Linked DNA regions of Homo sapiens: region 2 is linked to region 1. Evidence: fine-mapped expression QTL. A gene starts in region 1. The other region holds a variant in brackets. All regions are shown on one strand. Distances are from middle to middle.

The links. PIP is the estimated chance that this variant, and not a neighbour inherited with it, causes the effect.
Region 2: its variant is fine-mapped to the expression of CUTC in subcutaneous fat (TwinsUK, PIP 0.95).

The regions. Positions count from the first base shown.
Region 1 is chr10:99,728,488-99,737,507 of GRCh38, forward strand. CUTC (cutC copper transporter) reads left to right here and starts at 3,747. Exons shown (of 9, transcript NM_015960.3): 1 at 3,747-3,922; 2 at 7,759-7,830. The coding sequence starts at 3,862. It overlaps COX15 (cytochrome c oxidase assembly factor COX15), which reads right to left and starts at 3,640. Exons shown (of 9, transcript NM_078470.6): 1 at 3,473-3,640; 2 at 1,066-1,247. The coding sequence starts at 3,562. RefSeq lists an enhancer at 3,342-3,561.
Region 2 is chr10:99,773,858-99,782,877 of GRCh38, forward strand. ABCC2 (ATP binding cassette subfamily C member 2) reads left to right here and starts at 8,783. Exons shown (of 32, transcript NM_000392.5): 1 at 8,783-9,020. The coding sequence starts at 8,988. The variant G/A (reference allele first, on the strand shown) is at 4,206.

The DNA of each region.
Region 1 (9,020 bases):
ATACCTTGGGATATCCAAACTGATGATGAGGGAAAGCTTTTTAGAGTTGAGCTAATAAAATATTATAATTTTGCTACGCTAATGAAATAATGGATCTAGGCAATGGTAATTAATGGCTGTTAACATCTATAATAGACACCAGATATTCACGAATGTTCTATTCACCTACTGAAGTATTTTGCTCCCTCATCCCTAATTTGAATCTGATCAACCAACTACTCATTCACAGGAAATAGACGGGACAAAGGAACATGTTAAATATCACACAGTTATGCAGTCAGCAAAATCTAAACTGTGCATAACCATAGGACAAATGACTAGAGTTTCCTCAGCAACTAGAAGAGGGGGAAAGGGAGGAGTGTCTAAATCTATAGTCTCTTGATAGATTTAAACAAACCTAAGAAACATGAACCAATTGTGATGTACAGAACTTCTTTGGGTTTAATTCAAACAAACTGTAAAAAAAGTTTTGAGACAAACTTGGACTCTGATTGAAAGAGAAAAGATACATAAACAATGCACAGGTACCAGTTAAGACATAAACCAGTCTTTATAGAAGGCTCCTACTAATAAAACACTCAACTGTTCTATGGCAGGGCAAGCCATCAGACATGTTCCTTCTTTAAGGCCTCGGTTTCTCCATCTATACAATGAGGGAGCTAGACTAGATGCTCTGTAAAATTCCTTTCTCCAGCTGGGCATGGTGGCTCATGCCTGTAATCCTGGCACTTTGGGAGGCCGAGGTGGGCAGATCACCTGAGGTGAGGAGTTTGGATCAGCCTGGCCAACATGGTGAAACCCTGTCTCTACTAAAAATACAAAAAATTAGCCAGATATGGTGGCACGCGCCTAGTCCCAGCTACTTGGGAGGCTGAGGCAGGAGAATCGCTTGAACTCAGGAGACGGAGGTTGCAGTCAGCCGAGATCACACCACTGCACTCCAGCCTGGCCAACAGAGCAAGACTCTGTCTCAAAAAAAAAAAAAAAAAAAATCCTTTCTCCTCAGTCAACCTGTGCTTCTACTGATGATCCAAATACCTGACTCACTACGAGCAAATTACTTACCTAGTTACTCCACCAAGAATAACTGCTCCAGCCACTGTTCCACTGCAGACCAGGAGCCATCGGCCCACCACCCGCTCAGCAGCCTTTGAGGGAAGGGACACTGTACCCCTTCCAGATTGCAAAGCTACTTCAGAGATGGTGCTGTATTGCCCTGGCCTCAAAGGGCGCCTGATGCAATCACACTAAAGATCAAGATAGACAAATTACAACTGGAGAAACAGGGAATGGCTGCTACCCACACTCAACCCCATTCTGATTAGCGCGAAGTACCATAGCATCCCCACAGCCATGTCTTGTTAAGTCATCATCTCTTATCTGGATTACTGCATCAGCCTTCCAACTGGTTTTCCAATTGGTTTTCAAATCTAGCCTCACTCAAACCTATCCCCAACTACATGAATCTTCTCATCTCTGAATACTTCCCTCAGACTTCACTCTACTTACAGATATGGAATATTTTCTTTCACCTCTAGGTCTTTCAACATTTCTCTCTGGCTTGTACACTTCCTTTCCCCTGATTAATAATACCTACTGCAGATCTCCGCTTACATGTCACCTCCTCTGGGATGTATTCCCAGGCTCTTCAAGGTCTGCAATAGGTCACTCCCACAGCACACTGGAAAGCCCTTAATACACTGTAATGTACAGTCAAGCATCACTTAACAACAGGGGCACATGTTCTGTGAAATGCATTCTTAAGCAATTTCATCATTGTGTGAACCTCATAGAATGTACTTACACAAATCTAAAGGCTGGGTGTAGTGATTCACACCTGTAATCCCAGCACTTTGGGAGGCAGAGGCAGGGAGATCACTTGGGTCAGGAATTCAAGACCAGCCTGGCCAAAATGGTGAAACCCCATCTTTACCAAAAATACAAAAATTAGCTGGGCATGGTGGTGTATGCTTGTAATCCCAGCTATTTGAGAGGCTGAGGTGGCAGGATCACTTGAACCTGGGAGGCAGAGGTTGCAGTGAGCCAAGGTCTCACCACTGCACTCCAGCCTAGGCGATGAAGTGAGACTCCATCTCTCAAAAAAAAAAGTACTTACAGAAATCTAGATGGTATCGCCTACTACACCCCTGAGCTATATGGTATGACTTATTGCTCTTAGGCTATAAATCTGTATGGCATATTATGTACCGAATACTGTAACACAATGGTATTTGTTTATCTAAACATAGAAAAATTACAGTAAAAATATGGTATAAAAGATTTAAAAATGGGGCCAGGTGCAACGGCTCAAGCCTATAATCCCAAGGCTTTGGGAGGCCAAGGTGAGAGGATCACTTGAGGCCAGTAGTTCGAGACCAGCCTGGGCAATGTAGCGAGACCCCCTATCTCTATTTTTTCAAAAATTAGGCACAGTGGCACACACTTGTAGTCTTAGCTACTTAAGTGACTGAGGTAAGAGGATGCTTGAGGCCAGGATTTCCAAGCTGGAGGCTGCAGTGAGTTATAATCATGCCACAGCACTCCAGCCTGGGTGACAAAGTAAAACGCTGTCTCTAAAAAAGAAATTTAGAGAAAAAGATTTTTTTTTAAAAAAAAGGTACACTTGGAAAGGCAGCTCCATTATAATCTTATGGGACCATGACTGTATCTGTGGCCTGTTGTTGACCAAAATGTTGTTATGCAGCACATCACTCTACCTTCAGGTTCATCTGTTTGTATCTCCCACTAAACTATGAGCTTTGGGGTGGCAGTGTCCGGTCAGTCTTGCTCTCTCCCTTCTGCTAGCTTTGTTTCTAACACTGTTCCTTTATATAATGAGACCATGATAAGGATTTCGCAAATGAATAAACTGACTTCCTCCAGGGCAGGAGTCTTGTAATATTTATCTTTCTTTTTCCAGTTCCTAATATATAATAACCACTCAATAATTACTAGTTAAGCAAATGCATGCCCTCTTCTTACTATATCCCTGTGAGTCCAAAGATCCATGCTCGGTTTCCTATTTCTGATTAACTGAGTCACCTTTAGAAAAGTAACTTTAAGCCTCAATTTCCTTCTCTGTAGGATGCAGTAATACTTCCTCATCTGACTACTTGGAACTTTTTAAGCAAAAATAAACTATATGGGTAAAAATTACTCAGCTTTTACCATGTGCTAAAGGCCTGATGTATATTAAAGAATGTAATCCTCATAACAAACCTTAAAGTAGGTATTGTTATCCCCATTTTACAGATAAGGAAACTGAAGAACAGAAAGTTTAATTAACTTGGCCAATACCACACAGCAGGTCAATGTTCCAGATCTGAACCTAGGGGCTCTGATCTGAACCTATGCGTTGTGAGTGCACTGTAAGGAGCTCCGGAAACGTGATGTGGGGCTCTACATTATCTTTATCCCGGCCCTTTCACTCCATCCCCGCTCCCGCGACTCGGAGTCCGCTGCAGTGCGGTACCTGTGCTCTAGGCGCTGCCCTAGGAGCCAGGAGCGGCAGATACTGCCTCCCCTTCAAGGCCCTCAACGGCGGAAAGAGCAATCGCTGCATACTGATGACAGGGAACAGCCACCTCTTCCACAACCCAGGGCTCTGTGGTCTCCCTCCTCCGCCAAGGAAAAGAGAAGCACTTCCGGGTCGGGCAGCGGGAGCCCCGCCTTCTCTGGGGACCGGAGCGAACAGAAGTGCGCCTGCGTTGCGACTCCGCTTTCGCGGGGGCTGCTGGGGCGTAGGTGTCGGGGACGCGCGCACGGGCGCGCGCAGCTGTTGACGCGCTTCTTAGCTGGTGCGCGCCGGAGCCCAAATTCCAAGTGGAAACTGCAGGCGCACGAGGGAGGAACGCGTGGAGCATGAAAAGGCAGGGGGCCTCCTCTGAGCGAAAACGAGCGCGGATACCGTCCGGGAAGGCCGGTGCGGAAGGTGGCGGGGGAGGGGACGGTCGGCCGAAGGCTCCCCGGGGCGGGCCGGCGGGAGTCGTAGTCAGTGGTGATTTCTTCTGGAGTCGTTTCCTCAGCTCCTTCCAGCCCCTTGGGCGGCACCTTCTATCTTTGAGGCGTTAAAGGTGTGGAAACGGAGGGCGTGACGAGGGGCAGGTAGCGAGAATGGCTCAGCTGTGGAGCCAAGGTTCGAGTCCCGGGGTCCCCTCATAACGGCCCTGCGACCTTGTGCAAGTTGGTTAACTTCAGCTTCACGTTTTTTCCGTCGCCACACGAGGATGCCAGTACCGCCCGCACCAGCAGCCAGTACTCCGCTGGGATAGTTAATTGTCGAGCGCGGAGCCCAGTTCCTAACCTGCAGTTACCTGTAGCTGCCACGGCGGGGACGGGGCTTGGTCCCCAAAGTCACGCAGCTACCAAGTGGCCGAGCTTGTGGCTGCTCCAAGACCCGAGTTCTTCCTGAGTGCCAGGGTAGCATGGCATGGCAGGTGCCAGAGAATTTGGCAAGTCCCTCTTCCTCCGTGAAGAGGAACCTTCCTAAAAGTTATCAAGAATCCTCAAAGATTTTTTCTTTATGTGGATTACATCTATCTATTTTGACTGTATTAGAAATTAAAACAAATTTTTTTTTGGGAGGCCGAGGGGGACAGATCATCTGAGCTCAGGAGTTCGAGACCAGCCTGGCCAGCATGGTGAAACCCCGTCTCTACTAAAAATACAAAAATTAGCTGGGCATGGTGGCAGGCGCCTGTAATACCAGTTACTCGGGAGGCTGAGGCAGGAGAATCACTTGAACCCGGGAGGCGGAGGTTGCAGTAAGCCGAGATCGCGCCACTGCACTCCACCCTGGGCGACAGAGCGAGACTCCGTCTCAAAAAAATAAAAATAAAATTAAAACAAAATTTTAAAATATTGATTAGAAAATAACCATAGTAAACCCATTACATATTGACATAATATTTTTTTGAAAAAGAAATATTCCTAAACAACAACAACAAAAAAAGCAAAAGAGTGGAAATATATTTTTGCAAGTTTCTTCAGTATATCTTAATGGAAGACAGCTGGATTCTCATGCCCGCTGCTTCATTCAGTCTAACATGTCAAGTAGCCTCTTGAAAACGCCTCTTCACGGAGGTTGCAGTAAGCCGAGATCGCGCCAATGCACTCCATCTTGGGTGACAGAGTGAGACTCTGCCTCAAAAAAGAAAACGCCTCTCACTTGTGAGAGAATTAAAGTGAAAAAGTCAAATAAAGTGTTAGAATTATTAAGAAAACGGTTGTAGCCCTGCAGACTCTGAAAAGTCTCAGAGGCTCCCAAAGCTCTCTGGACTACTACACTTTGAGAACTGCTGCTGCTTCTCCTTTGATCCTATAACTTTGTTGCTTGGGACAACTGCCTTGCTCTGCCTTCTGTCATAGCCTTTTTTATACATCTCTCCATCTTCTCCTGCCTAGGGTCCTTTCTTGTGTGAGGCAAATAGTCCCCCGGCAGCATCAGCATCGGCCAGTGCCACTGATCTGACAGCTGGTCTGGTAGCTACCAGGAAACTCATGGAGTTAATAATGCAGAGCTGTTGGTTAAGAGCATAGATTGACACTTAACCCTTTCACAGTTTGGGACTGATAGTATTTTTTTTTTTTTTTTTTTTTTGAGACGGAGTCTGGCTCTTGTCGCCCAGGCTGGAGTGCAGTGGCCTGATCTCAGCTCACTGCAACCTCCACCTCCCAGGTTCAAGCAATTCTCCTGCCTCAGCCTCCTGAATAGCTGGGATTACAGGCGCCCGCCACCACGCCCGGCTAATTTATATACTTTTAGTAGAGATGGGGTTTCGCCATGTTGGCCAGGCTGGTCTCAAAATCCTGACCTCAGATCCGCCCACCTTGGCCTCCCAAAGTACTGGGATTACAGGCGTGAGCCACCGCGCCGGACAGGGACTGATAGTCTTAAATAAGTAAGGCAATTGCAGTTTGATGTTAGCAGATGATAGGTTTTTGTTTTATTTGTTTTTCAAAGTAAAAATTGCTTTTTTAAATTATAAAAGCAATATTGGGTAGAAAAAATAAAGCAATAAAGAAAAGTAAAAAGAAGAAAATAAAAATAATTTCAAATCACACCCCACCAGAAGTGACCATTACCAGTATGTGAGGAACATTCTAGTAAGTGTCATTACATGAAGTGTGCATTGTTTCGTTCATTTTTTTAAATTATGTGCTCCCGGAAAAAAACTCAAAACTCTGTTTACATCACACTTTGTAATATAAATACATTAATTTTGTTGTAATTATTCAGCTTTTAGTAAATATTTGATTATTGTGTACCATGGTAGATACTGTGCTTGGTGTGGGTGATGATAAAGATTTCTCACATAAAGACCTTACTTAGGAGGCCAGACGTGGTGGCTCATGCCTATAATCCCAGCACTTTGGGAGGCCGAGGCTGGCAGATCGCTTGAGTGCAGGAGTTTGAGACCAGCATGGGCAACATGGCGAAACCCCATCTCTACAAAAAATACAAAATTAACCAGGTGTTGTGGCACATACCTGTAGTCCCAGCTACTGAGGAGGCTGAGGCACAAGAATTGCTTGAGCCTGGGAGGCGGAGGTTGCAGTGAGCCGAGATCATGCCACTGCACTCTAGCCTGGGCGACAGAGCAAGACTCTGTATCAAAAAAAAAAAAAAAAAAAAAAAAACAAACTTAGGAACTCTAAGTCAAGTAGAAGTGATCAGATATTTATCTGCATAAATAATAAAAGGTAGAAAGTAATTCATATTTTAAGAAGGAACAATTGGGGTTTCATAACTCATGAAGAGTTAAATGAGTTCAAAAGAGGGACATAAAATTTTCTACTTTGGGAGACAGAAAAAATCATGGAAATGTTCCTTGAAAAATTTTATTCAGAGATGAAGCCAGAAGGAACTCTGGGTTGAGGAGAAGGCATTGGGGAGCCAGCGGTAGGGACTGGAGAGATCTGGAAGCATAAGAAGGAATGAGACAGAGTATCACTCTGTCACCCAGGCTGGAGTGCAGTAGCACAATCTTGGCTCACTGCAACCTCCACCTCCTGGGTTCAAGCGATTCTCATGCCTCAGCCTCCCAAGTAGCTGGGATTACAGGCGCATGCCACGATGCCTGGCTAATTTTTGTATTTTTAGTAGAGACAGGGTTTTACCATGTTGGCCAGGCTGATCTCCAATTCCTGACCTCATGTGATCCACCCACCTCGGCCTCCCAAAGTGCTGGGATTACAGGCATGAGCCATCACACCCGGCCAGATAACTAATACTTTTTGATTCTTGAGACTATATACTTTACATGAATTATCTAATTTAATCCTCACTACTCTGAGGTACATACTAAAATCTACCTTGTTTTATAGAAAACTTAAGTAACTAATCTAGGATCTCACACTAAATAGTTGGTGGGACATGGATTTGAAGTCTGTCCTGCTTTTAAACCTATATTCCTTATAAAGAAGTTTAAATATATTCTGCAGGCATTGAGAAGCATTGTAAGAATCTCAGCTGGAATGTGATGATGAGGTCTATGTTTTAGGAAGATTAATTTGGCATTCGATAGACATTTTCCTCAGTATAATTTTTTATACATCTGTCTGTGTACCTATTTCAGTCTATAGGCATCAATTCAATAATTAATGTGATATTTTATTGCATTCATGGGCCCTAGTGTACTTATCTATTACCTGTTATTGGACATTTGCATTTTGGCAGCAGAATGTAAACCCTTTGTGGTAAATTGGTCTGGATGGATAGAACCTTTATGAACTCTTACCATTCTCCATGTATTTTAGGAGCAGCAAATGGATTTCTCATGGAAGTTTGTGTTGATTCAGTGGAATCAGCTGTGAATGCAGAAAGAGGAGGTAAGAGAAATCAGATAGTGAATGACCGTTGGCTACCCTTTTAAGAGTCTGAAAATTAATCCTGTGTGCTTATCTCAGAAGCCCTTGTGATCTCTAAGCATCCCTCATAATGCTTTCAGAAACAACCAATTAGAAACCCTACTGGAAAATTATGATCTAGTCTCTCCCTCTCCCCAAGTGGGTCACATTTTAAGTCAAGTGTCGACAATAGTACTTACTCAATGACTTGATTTTTTATTGAACTTAGCAAAATTTTAATTTTTTTAAACCATTAACTTAAAGATGACTTCAGAGACTTCATCATGAGGAATTTTATCTTTTTTACTTTTGAACATTATCTATTTTTCCCTCAAAGTTTCTGTTGTACTCTGAACCTGTTTTAATGGGAAGCACAGACATTTCCATCATCTCAGGTTCAGAAAAATTAAAAAAAAATTTTATTATGGAAAAATAAACATATACAAAAGTAGAGCAAATAGGATAATGAAGCCCCATGTATGCATCACTCATCTTCACCCATTTTCAACACATGGCCAGTTTTTCATTTATTTCAGGGGTCAATAAACTTTTTCTGTGAAGAGCTGCATAGTATATATATTTTCAGCCTTGCTGGACACATTTGATCTTTATCACTTATTTTATTTTTAAATCTTTTGAAAATGTAAACATCAGCCGGGTGCAGTGGCTTACACCTGTAATCCCAGTAATTGGAGAGGCTGAGGCTGCCAGATCACTTGAGCTCATGAGTTCGACACCAGCCCAGGCAACATGGCAAAACCCTGTCTCAACAAAAAATAGAAAAATTAGCCAAGCGTGGTGGTGAGCACCTGTAGTCCCAGCTACTTGGGAGGCTAAGGTGGGAGGATCACTTGAGTCCAGGAGGCAGAGGCTGAAGTGAGCCAGTCACACCACTGCACTCTAGCCTGGGTGACACAGCCAGATCTTGTCTAAAAAAAAAAAAAAAGTTAAAAAAATCCTTCTTACTTTGGCAATAGAAAAGAATGAAGTACTGATACATGCTATAATATAGATGAATCTTGAAATATTATTCTAAGTGAAAGAAACCAGTGGAAGAAAATACAACATATGATTCCATTTATATATATCCAAAATAGGTAAGTTTATGTAGACAGAAAGTAGATTAATAGTTGCTTAGGGCTGAGAGGCATGAGAAGGGTAGGTGACTGCTA
Region 2 (9,020 bases), 45 kb after region 1:
TTCTGAAAAGAAAAAAAAAATAGAGACAGGATCTCGCTTTGTCACCCAGGCTGCAGTGCAGTGGCACAATCAGCTCACTGCCACCTTAAACTCCTGGGCTCAAGCAATCCTCCACCTTTAGCCTACCAAGTAGCTGAGACTACAGAAATGCACCACCACAACTGGCTAATTTTTTTTTTTTTTTTTTTTTTTTTTTTTTTGTAGAGTTGGGGTCTTGCTATGTTGCCAAGGCTGGTCTCAAGTGATCCTCCTGCTTTGGCCTTCCAAAGTGTTGAGATTACATAAGCGTGAGACATTGCATCCAGCCCTTATATGTGTGGGGTTTTTTTTAGCTTATTTTTTTCAGTCTTCTAGCTCTTCTGCAATTAACCACTATTAACAGTTTCTTTCCGAAATGTTTGATAATTTACTTGTATTTAATTGCTTGTGAAGCTATCTATATGTTTTTCCATGTGATAATTTACTGTTTATATTGCCCCCCATGTTATTTATATCAGATATATTCTCAGTTTGGCTGCTTTCAATATTAATATTTGTTTTATAACATTCTCTTTAAAAATTATGTATACATATTTCTCTTTTATAATATCATCCTTTGTTTCCAGTACTCAGAAGAGTATTTTTTTGTCTAGTGCATCTTTTTATGTTAGTTCATTTTTTTCTGGTATTTTATGACCTATCAAGGATGTACTGTATGGGATGATATGAAGTAAAGACCTAAATTAATCTTTCTTTCTTTCTTTCTTTCTTTTTTTTAATTTGACAGAGTCTTGTTCTGTCACCCAGGCTGGAGTGCAATGGCACAATTTCGGCTCACTGCAACCTCTGCCTCCTACGTTCAAGTGATTCTCTGCCTCAGCCTCCTGAGTAGCTGGGATTACAGGAGCTCACCACCACGCCTGGCTAATTTTTGTATTTTTTAGTAGAGATGGGGTTTTGCCATGTTCTCCAGGCTGGTCTGGAACTCCTGACCGCAAGTGATCCACCCGCCTCAGCCTCCCAAAGTGCTGCATTTACAGGCAAGAGCCACCGTGCTCGGCCTAATCATTTATTTTCTATGTTGATATCCTGTTGCCCAAAAAATACGGAACAATTCAGCCCATTTGCGGTAGTTTGTCACAAGTTAAAAGTTTATCCTTTAAATATACAAGGAACATCATTCTGTACCACTGATAACTTTCATTATTTGTAAAAGTATATACTCTTTGTAAAAATTATCTAAAACTTTGAATAGTTAACTCTTTTTTATAGAACCTAAGTCTAATTCAATGAGTTCATTCATTATTTAACATATTCTTTGAATTTATTCAAAAGAATTTCACTGTATTTCAATTTTTAATAATTACAGGAAGAATAGTTTTACAATAGAAGAAAGTTTTTTTTAAAATTCATGTTAATTCAATTATCTGTATGTCTTTTTTGGTCCCTGGATATTCCAAAACTATATATATATATATATATATATATATATATATATATATATATATATATATATATATATATTTTTTTTTTTTTTTTTTTTGAGACAGAGTTTCGCTCTTGTTGCCCAGACTGGAGTGCAATGGCATGATCTTGGCTCACCACAGCCTCCACCTCCCAGGTTCAAGCCATTCTCCTGCCTCAGCCTCCCGAGTAGCTGGGATTGCAGGCATGCACCACCACGCCTGGCTAATTTTGTATTTTTAGTAGAAATGGGGTTTCTCCATGTTGGTCAAGCTGGTCTCGAACTCCCAACCTCAGGCAATCCATCTGCCACGGCCTCCCAAAGGGCTGGGATTACAGGCATGAGCCACTGCGCCCGGCCTCTAAAAAGATTTTTGTTTGTTTTGGAAGTATAAAAATGTTAATATTATTCTTGGGGGGAGAATTTGGGAGTAATTATTTTATTATTTCCTAGTTACAGTTTTTAATTTTTTATAGGAACATGAATTACTAGCTCAATTTAAAAAATGTGAAGGGAAAACAATGTTTTTACTGTTCTCACTTAAATTTGGATATGTGTTCCAAGATACTACACAAGAATGAAAATCCTTATTAAATCTATCTCTAATGATTAACCAAAAGTGGACCACTCTGCTTATCTTGGACATTGAACTTTTGTAGATTTTTCAAAGTTATTTAAGTGCAAAACTTAATTAGTTAACATTTGCTTGCTAAATAGAAATGATACAGCATATTTTCTCCTGAATCATGTAGATGAGTCATTCTTTTCTATTGAATTATCTCTGTGCAATCCATGATTTACACTGCAGCACACCCACACTGAGTCATTAAGAAGAGATGTTTTGAGACCATTAAGAGGAGATTTGGGATCAATCTTTTTACATAGGACCAGCAGAGCTAAGTTTAGAATTCAGGTTTCCTGACTCCTTTATTTATGTTTTGCAGTGTTTCATTGTACAGCCTTCCTATCCCTATTAAAAATATCAAGGCATTCGTCCCATCTTTTGATGCTTTTATGATTCTCAGTGATTCCAGAAGATTACAGATCATGGTTCTGCAATGCTTCTGTCAGTCCTTTTAGAACCCATTTTGGGCTGCAGGAACTTTCATATTCATTCATTTCATTTTTTACATTCATTAATGTAAAAAAGAAAGGCTCAGAAGCCCCTGCCTTCCCCCACCCCAAGAATAACCACTGTGAATAGTTTATTTGAATCAACGTTTATATTGTTTGAATCTGTTAAGTGTAAATACATAATTTTTTAAATCAAAATGGAATCACACTATTCTACCACTTGCTTTTTTAAAATAGACTTTATTTCTTAGAGCAGTTTTAGGTTCACAGCAAAATTGAACAGAAAGTATAGAGACTTCACATAATGCCCTGCCCCCATTATGTATGGCCTCCCTCATCATCAGTTTATCACCAGCCCCCACCAGAGTGGTACATTTGTGTCAACTGATGAACCTACATTGACATAACACTATCACACAAAGCCCATAGTTTACACTAAGGTTCACTATTGGTTTTCTCTATTCTATGAGTTTGGACAAATTTATAATGACATCTATTCACAACTATAGTTATCATACAGAATAATTTCACTGCCCTAAAAATGCTCTGAGCTCCACCTATTCATTCCTCCCTCCCTGCTAACCCCTGGCAACCTCTGATCTTTTTACTGTCTCCCTAGTTTTGACTTTTCCAGAATGCCGTCTAGTTGGAATCATACAGTATGTAGCCTTTTCAGGTTGACTTCTTTCACTTAATAATATGCATGTAAGTTTCCTACACATCTTTTCATGGCTCAATAGTTCATTTCTTTTTAGCACTGAATAATATTCCATTGCCTGGTATATTATGACTATTGATGTTTAATATGATGATTGATACAGTTGGATTATTATCTACCATGTTTGTGGTGACTATTTCTCTTTGTTGTCTTTGTTCTCTTTTCCTATTTTTTCTTCCACTCTTTTTTTCACTTTTGTGGTTTAGTTGACTGTTTTATATGATTACATTTTCTCTTCTTTCTTAGCATATCAGTTATACTTCCTCTTTTTCTTTTTTACATTTTTAGCAGTTGCCCTAGAGGTTTTTTGTTTGTTTGTTTGTTTTTGGTTTTCTTTTTGAGACGGAGTCTAGCTCTGTCGCCAGGCTGGAGTGCAGTGGCACCGTCTCGGCTCATTGCAACCTCCACCTTCCGGGTTCAAGTGATTCTCCAGCCTCCTGAGTAGCTGGATTATAGGCATGTGCCGCCACGCCCAGGTAATTTTTGTATTTTTAGTAGAGACGGGGTTTCACCATGTTAGCCAGGATCGTCTCTAACTCCTGACCTTGTGATTTGCCCACCTCAGCCTCCCAAAGTGCCCAGGATCCCAGCCATAGAGTTTTAAATACACATTTACAATGAATCCAAGTCCACTTTCAAAGAACACTATGCACTTTACAGGTAGTGCGAGTACCTTATAATAACAAAATAATCCTAATTCTCCCTCCCATCCCTTATGTCTTTGCTGTCATTCATTTTTGTTATACATAAGCATTTAAAAATATACACAGAAATATGCATGATTGAATACATTGTTGCTATTATTTTGAGTGAACTGCTATTTTTTAGGTCAGTTAGAATTAAATAATTTATTTCACCTTATTTCTTCTCCAGTGCTCTTCCTTTCTTTATGTAAATCCAAATTTCTGACCTATATCATTTTCCTTCTCTCTTAAGCAGGGGTCCCCAGCACCTGGGCCACAAACTGGT[G/A]CTGGTCCAAGGCCTGTTAGGGCTGCACAGCAGGTGGTGAGCAGCAGGCTTCTTAGCTCCACCTCCTGTCAGATCAGCAGAGGCATGTGATTCTCATAGGAGTGTGAGCCCTATTGTGAAGTGTGCATGTGAGGGATCTAGGTTGCACACCCTTATGAGATCTAATGCCTGATGATCTGAGGTGGAACAGTTTCATCCTGAAACCATTCCCCACAAAATTGGTCTCTGGTGCCAAAAAGGTTGGGGACCACTCCTCTATAGGAATTCTTTTAACATTTCTTGCAAGGCAGGTCTACTGGCAACAAATTCCCTCAGTCTTTGTTTGTGTGAGAATGTATTTATGTATTTATTATTATTTTATATATATATATAGAGAGAGAGAGAGACAGAGAGAGAGAGAGAGAGAGAGAGAGAGAGTGTCTCACTATGCTGCCCAGGCTGGACTCAAACTCTTGGATCAAGCAATCCCTCCACCTCAGCCTCCTGAATAGCTGGGACTATAGGCACGCACCACTGTGCCTGGCTTCTCTTTACTTTTAAAGAATAATTTTGTGGGTACAGAATGCTGGCTGTTGGTGGCTTTTTTCTCTCACCACTGTAAATATTTCATTCCATTCTCTTCTTGCTTGCATGCTTGCTGAGGAAAAGTTGGACATAATTTTCATCTTTTCTCCTCTACAAGTAAGGTCTTTTTCCCCGGGCTTCATTCAGAATTTTTTATCTTTGATTTCCTGCAACTTATATATGCATGCCTGGTTGTAGGGCTTTTGTTTGTTTGTTTGGCATTTGTTCTACTTGGTGTTCTCTCAACTTCTGTGATCTGTGATTTGGTGTCTGAAATTAGTATGAGGGAAATTCTCTTTCATTATTGCTTCAAATATTTATTCTGTTCCTTTCTCTGGTTATTCTCTTCCTGCTATTTCCATTACACATATGTTATACCCTTTGTAGTTGTCCCATAGTTCTTGGAGATTCTGTTTATATAGTCTTACTTATTTTTGCAGTTTTGGCAGTTATTTTCAAGTTCAAATATTCTGTTTTCAGCCTTGTTCAGTCTACCAAAAAGCCCATCAAAGGCATTCTTTATTTCTATTACAGTGTTTTTGATCTCTAGTATTTATTTCTTTTTAGTTCTTTCTTAGAATTTAAACTCTCTGCTTACATCGACCCATTTGTTCTTGTATGCTGTCTACTTTATCCATTAGAGCCCTTGGCATTGTGATCATAGTTGTTTTAAATTTCTGGTCTGATAATTCCAACATCCCAGTCATATCTGAGTTTGGTTCTGAGGCTTGCTCTCTGTCTCTTTAAAGCCTTTTTTTTTTCTTTTTTTTTTTTTGCCTTTTAGTATGCCTGGCAATGTTTTCTTCATAGCTGGACAGGATATACGGAGTAAAAGGAAGTGCTGTAACTAGACCTTTAGTAGTGTGGTATACAGTGGGGGAGGGGGAGAGGAAGAGTTCTATAGTTCTGTGAAGAGGTCTCAGTCTTTTAGTAAACCTGTGTCTCTAGACTGAATTTCACAAGTGCTTCTCAGTTCCTATCTGCCCCGATCCCTGTTAGGTGGGACGTGATGGCTAGAGTGGGCTGCAGCTGGGTATTTTCAGTTTTCATGTGGAAGGCTAGAAGAGACTGGAGTTCTTATTTCCCTTCTCCGGCATCATTTAGGCTCCTATAAATCAAGAGCATTAGGCTCTATTTAAACAGTTTTTCCCAAGGGCAGACTTTGTTTAGAAGAGAAGAATAGAGTGTCCAGGTATATTTCAAATGGTTACTTTTCCTATCCCCTCTGCCAGGGACATGGAAGCAGGAGGAGATTTTTCTCTAATAAAAAGAGAACAATATTTGAGAACCTCTTTGAATTCCTATGGGTAAACTCATGAAAGTGTGGAGATCATCCCCTCCTTATGGCTGAGTCACTCTGGAATTTTTCTCTCTCAAACTTATCTACACTGGGCCTCCGGCAATTCAATTACAGTTCAGGTTTTCCTGCCCTAGCCCTGGTTCCTGCTGAGATTTCTTTTCTTTTTTCTTTTTTTTTTTTTTTTTTTTTTTGAGACAGTGTCTCTGTTGCCCAGGCTGGAGTGCAGTGGCGTGATCTCAAGTCACTGCAAGCTCCGCTTCCCGGGTTCACGCCATTCTCCTGCCTCAGCATCTCCGAGTAGCTGGGACTACAGGCGCCCGGCACCACGCCCGGCCAATTTTTTGTATTTTTAGTAGAGACAGGGTTTCACTGTGGTCTCGATCTCCTGACCTCGTGATCCGCCCGCCTCGGCCTCCCAAAGTGCTGGGATTACAAGCGTGAGCCACCGCGCCCGGCCCCTGCTGAGATTTCTGCGCCAGTAAATTGTGATTTTTGATATTCTCTTGTTTATCTCTTCAGTTTGCCCTGTAACCTTATCTCTCTACAGATCTAAGAAGAGTTATTGATTTTTCTATTTGTTCAGATTTTTAGTTATTGTTAGGAAAGATTCATGACTTCCTGGCTCCTTACTTGCTTTTCTCATTCAATATTCCCTATGAGTACATATTTTATACTTTAAGCAACTTGTTTTGATGAACATTTAGATTCTCCACCCTCTCTTTTTTTGATTACTTAGAACGTTTAGGCCAGACACGATGGCTCATGCCTGTAATCCCAGCAGTTTGGGAGGCCGAGGCGAATGGATCGCTTGAGCCCAGGAGTTTGAGGCTCTACAAAAAAATTAAAAAAAGAAAATTAGGTGTTAATCCTTGACCTTATATTTCTCAAAGTTTTACCAAGAGTTCCCCCGGACTCCGAGTCCTACCACCAGTGCCAAGAGAAGTATGCAGCCTAAAGGTGCACCCTGCCCCAAGTGAGATCTCTTAGTTCCACAGCTGACCTTTCCTGGCTCTTCTGGTGAGTGGTATGGAAAATGATGGAGAAACTGCCATATGTTTTCATAATGGTCAGACCAATTTACATTTCCATCAACAGTATACTAGGGTTCCCTTTTCTCCACACCCTTGCCAGCACTTATCTTGTTGTTTTTTTTTTTTTTTTGTAATAGCCATCCTAATAGGTATGAGGTGGTATCTAACTGTGGTTTTGATTTGTGTTTTCCAGATGACTTGTGAAGTTGATTCAGTTGTCATATACCTGTTGGCCATTTATATGTCTTCTTTGGAAAAGTGTCTGTTCAAGTCCTTTGCCCACTTTTTAATTTGTTAGTGTATGTTTGCTATTGAGTTGTATGAGTTCCTTATAGTATATTGTGGATATTAACTCTTCATCAGTTATATGGTCTGCAAATATTTTCTCCCACACTGAATGCTGCCTTTTCATTTTTTTTATGTGTATACTTGACTTTTAAAATCAGTAACAAGGTCCATACAATTCACATTTGGCTGATATGCCTCTTGATTCTCTTGTAATTTGTAAGTTCCTTTGACTCCTTTCCTTCTTTTAATTTATTTATTAAAAAATGGAATCATTTGCACTATAGAATCTCCCACATTCTGGATTTTGACAATTGCATTCCAATGGAGTCCTTTAGCATGTTCCTGTGTTTCTTATAATCCGGTAGTTAGATCTAGAATTTGACCAGATTTAAGGCCAATTTTTTTTAGCTAGGATACTGCATGGGTGGTTATGTTTTAGCTAGGATACCGCATGGGTGGTTCATGATATCATGAAAAAAGCATGTTCTTAAAGCAATTTAAGTGACAGTACAAAAGGTTGGGTCAGGTGGGGCACGGTAGCTCATGCCTGCAATCCCAGCCCTTTGGGAGGCCAAGGCAGAAGGATTGTTGAAGCCTGGAGTTTGAGACCAGCCTGGGCAACATAGTGAGACCCCGTCCCTACAGAAAACATTTTTTTAATTAGCTGGGCTTGTTGGCATGTGCCTGTAGTCCCAGCTACTCAGGAAGCTGAGGCAGGAAGATCGCTTGAACCCATGAGGTCAAGGCTGCAATGAATCATGATGGCAACACTGCACTCTAGCTCAGGCAACAGACCAAGACCCTGTCTCAAAAAACAAAAAACAATAACAAAAAAAGAAAAGGTTGGGTCGATGACAGTTTCTAGCGACTGATGCCACCACTCTGTTTACAGAATCACCCCTCTCCTCTGGCCCTGATGTTTTATCATGATATCATATTTACAATGCCTGGCAAAGGCTTCATTCCCATTTGGCATACTACCTCTCAGGCAAATAGAACTTTTGAAAGCCTGTATTATGTATATAACATATAGGCTCACACTGGATAAGCTATTTTATAACCTGACTTCTTCAAAGAAAGTTTACATCATGTTTAAACCATGTTTTAGATTCTATATTTTTAATTAAAAATCTAAGGAAGAAGGATATTTCACATTTCTATAAACTCTAAGATCTTGCAGCAGAAGCGAAACTGCACATTTAGGGGTGCCTGCCCCTCTACTGATGCTGCCCTTTGTGGGTCATATGTCCTTAGGAAAATGAAAGACTGTGCACTCTTGATTTGTTGGCCAGCTCTGTTGACATCTTTCAGTGGTTCCTTTTATGTATGGCCACTCCTACAGAGGCCTCTTGTACTTTGGGAACTGGTGAGTCTCCCTGTCCCTAGGGCTTTTTAGTCACATGTCCATCCACTGTTTCAATGTAACATGCATCTAGGCAAGGTTAACGATTAAATGGTTGGGATGAAAGGTCATCCTTTACGGAGAACATCAGAATGGTAGATAATTCCTGTTCCACTTTCTTTGATGAAACAAGTAAAGAAGAAACAACACAATCATATTAATAGAAGAGTCTTCGTTCCAGACGCAGTCCAGGAATCATGCTGGAGAAGTTCTGCAACTCTACTTTTTGG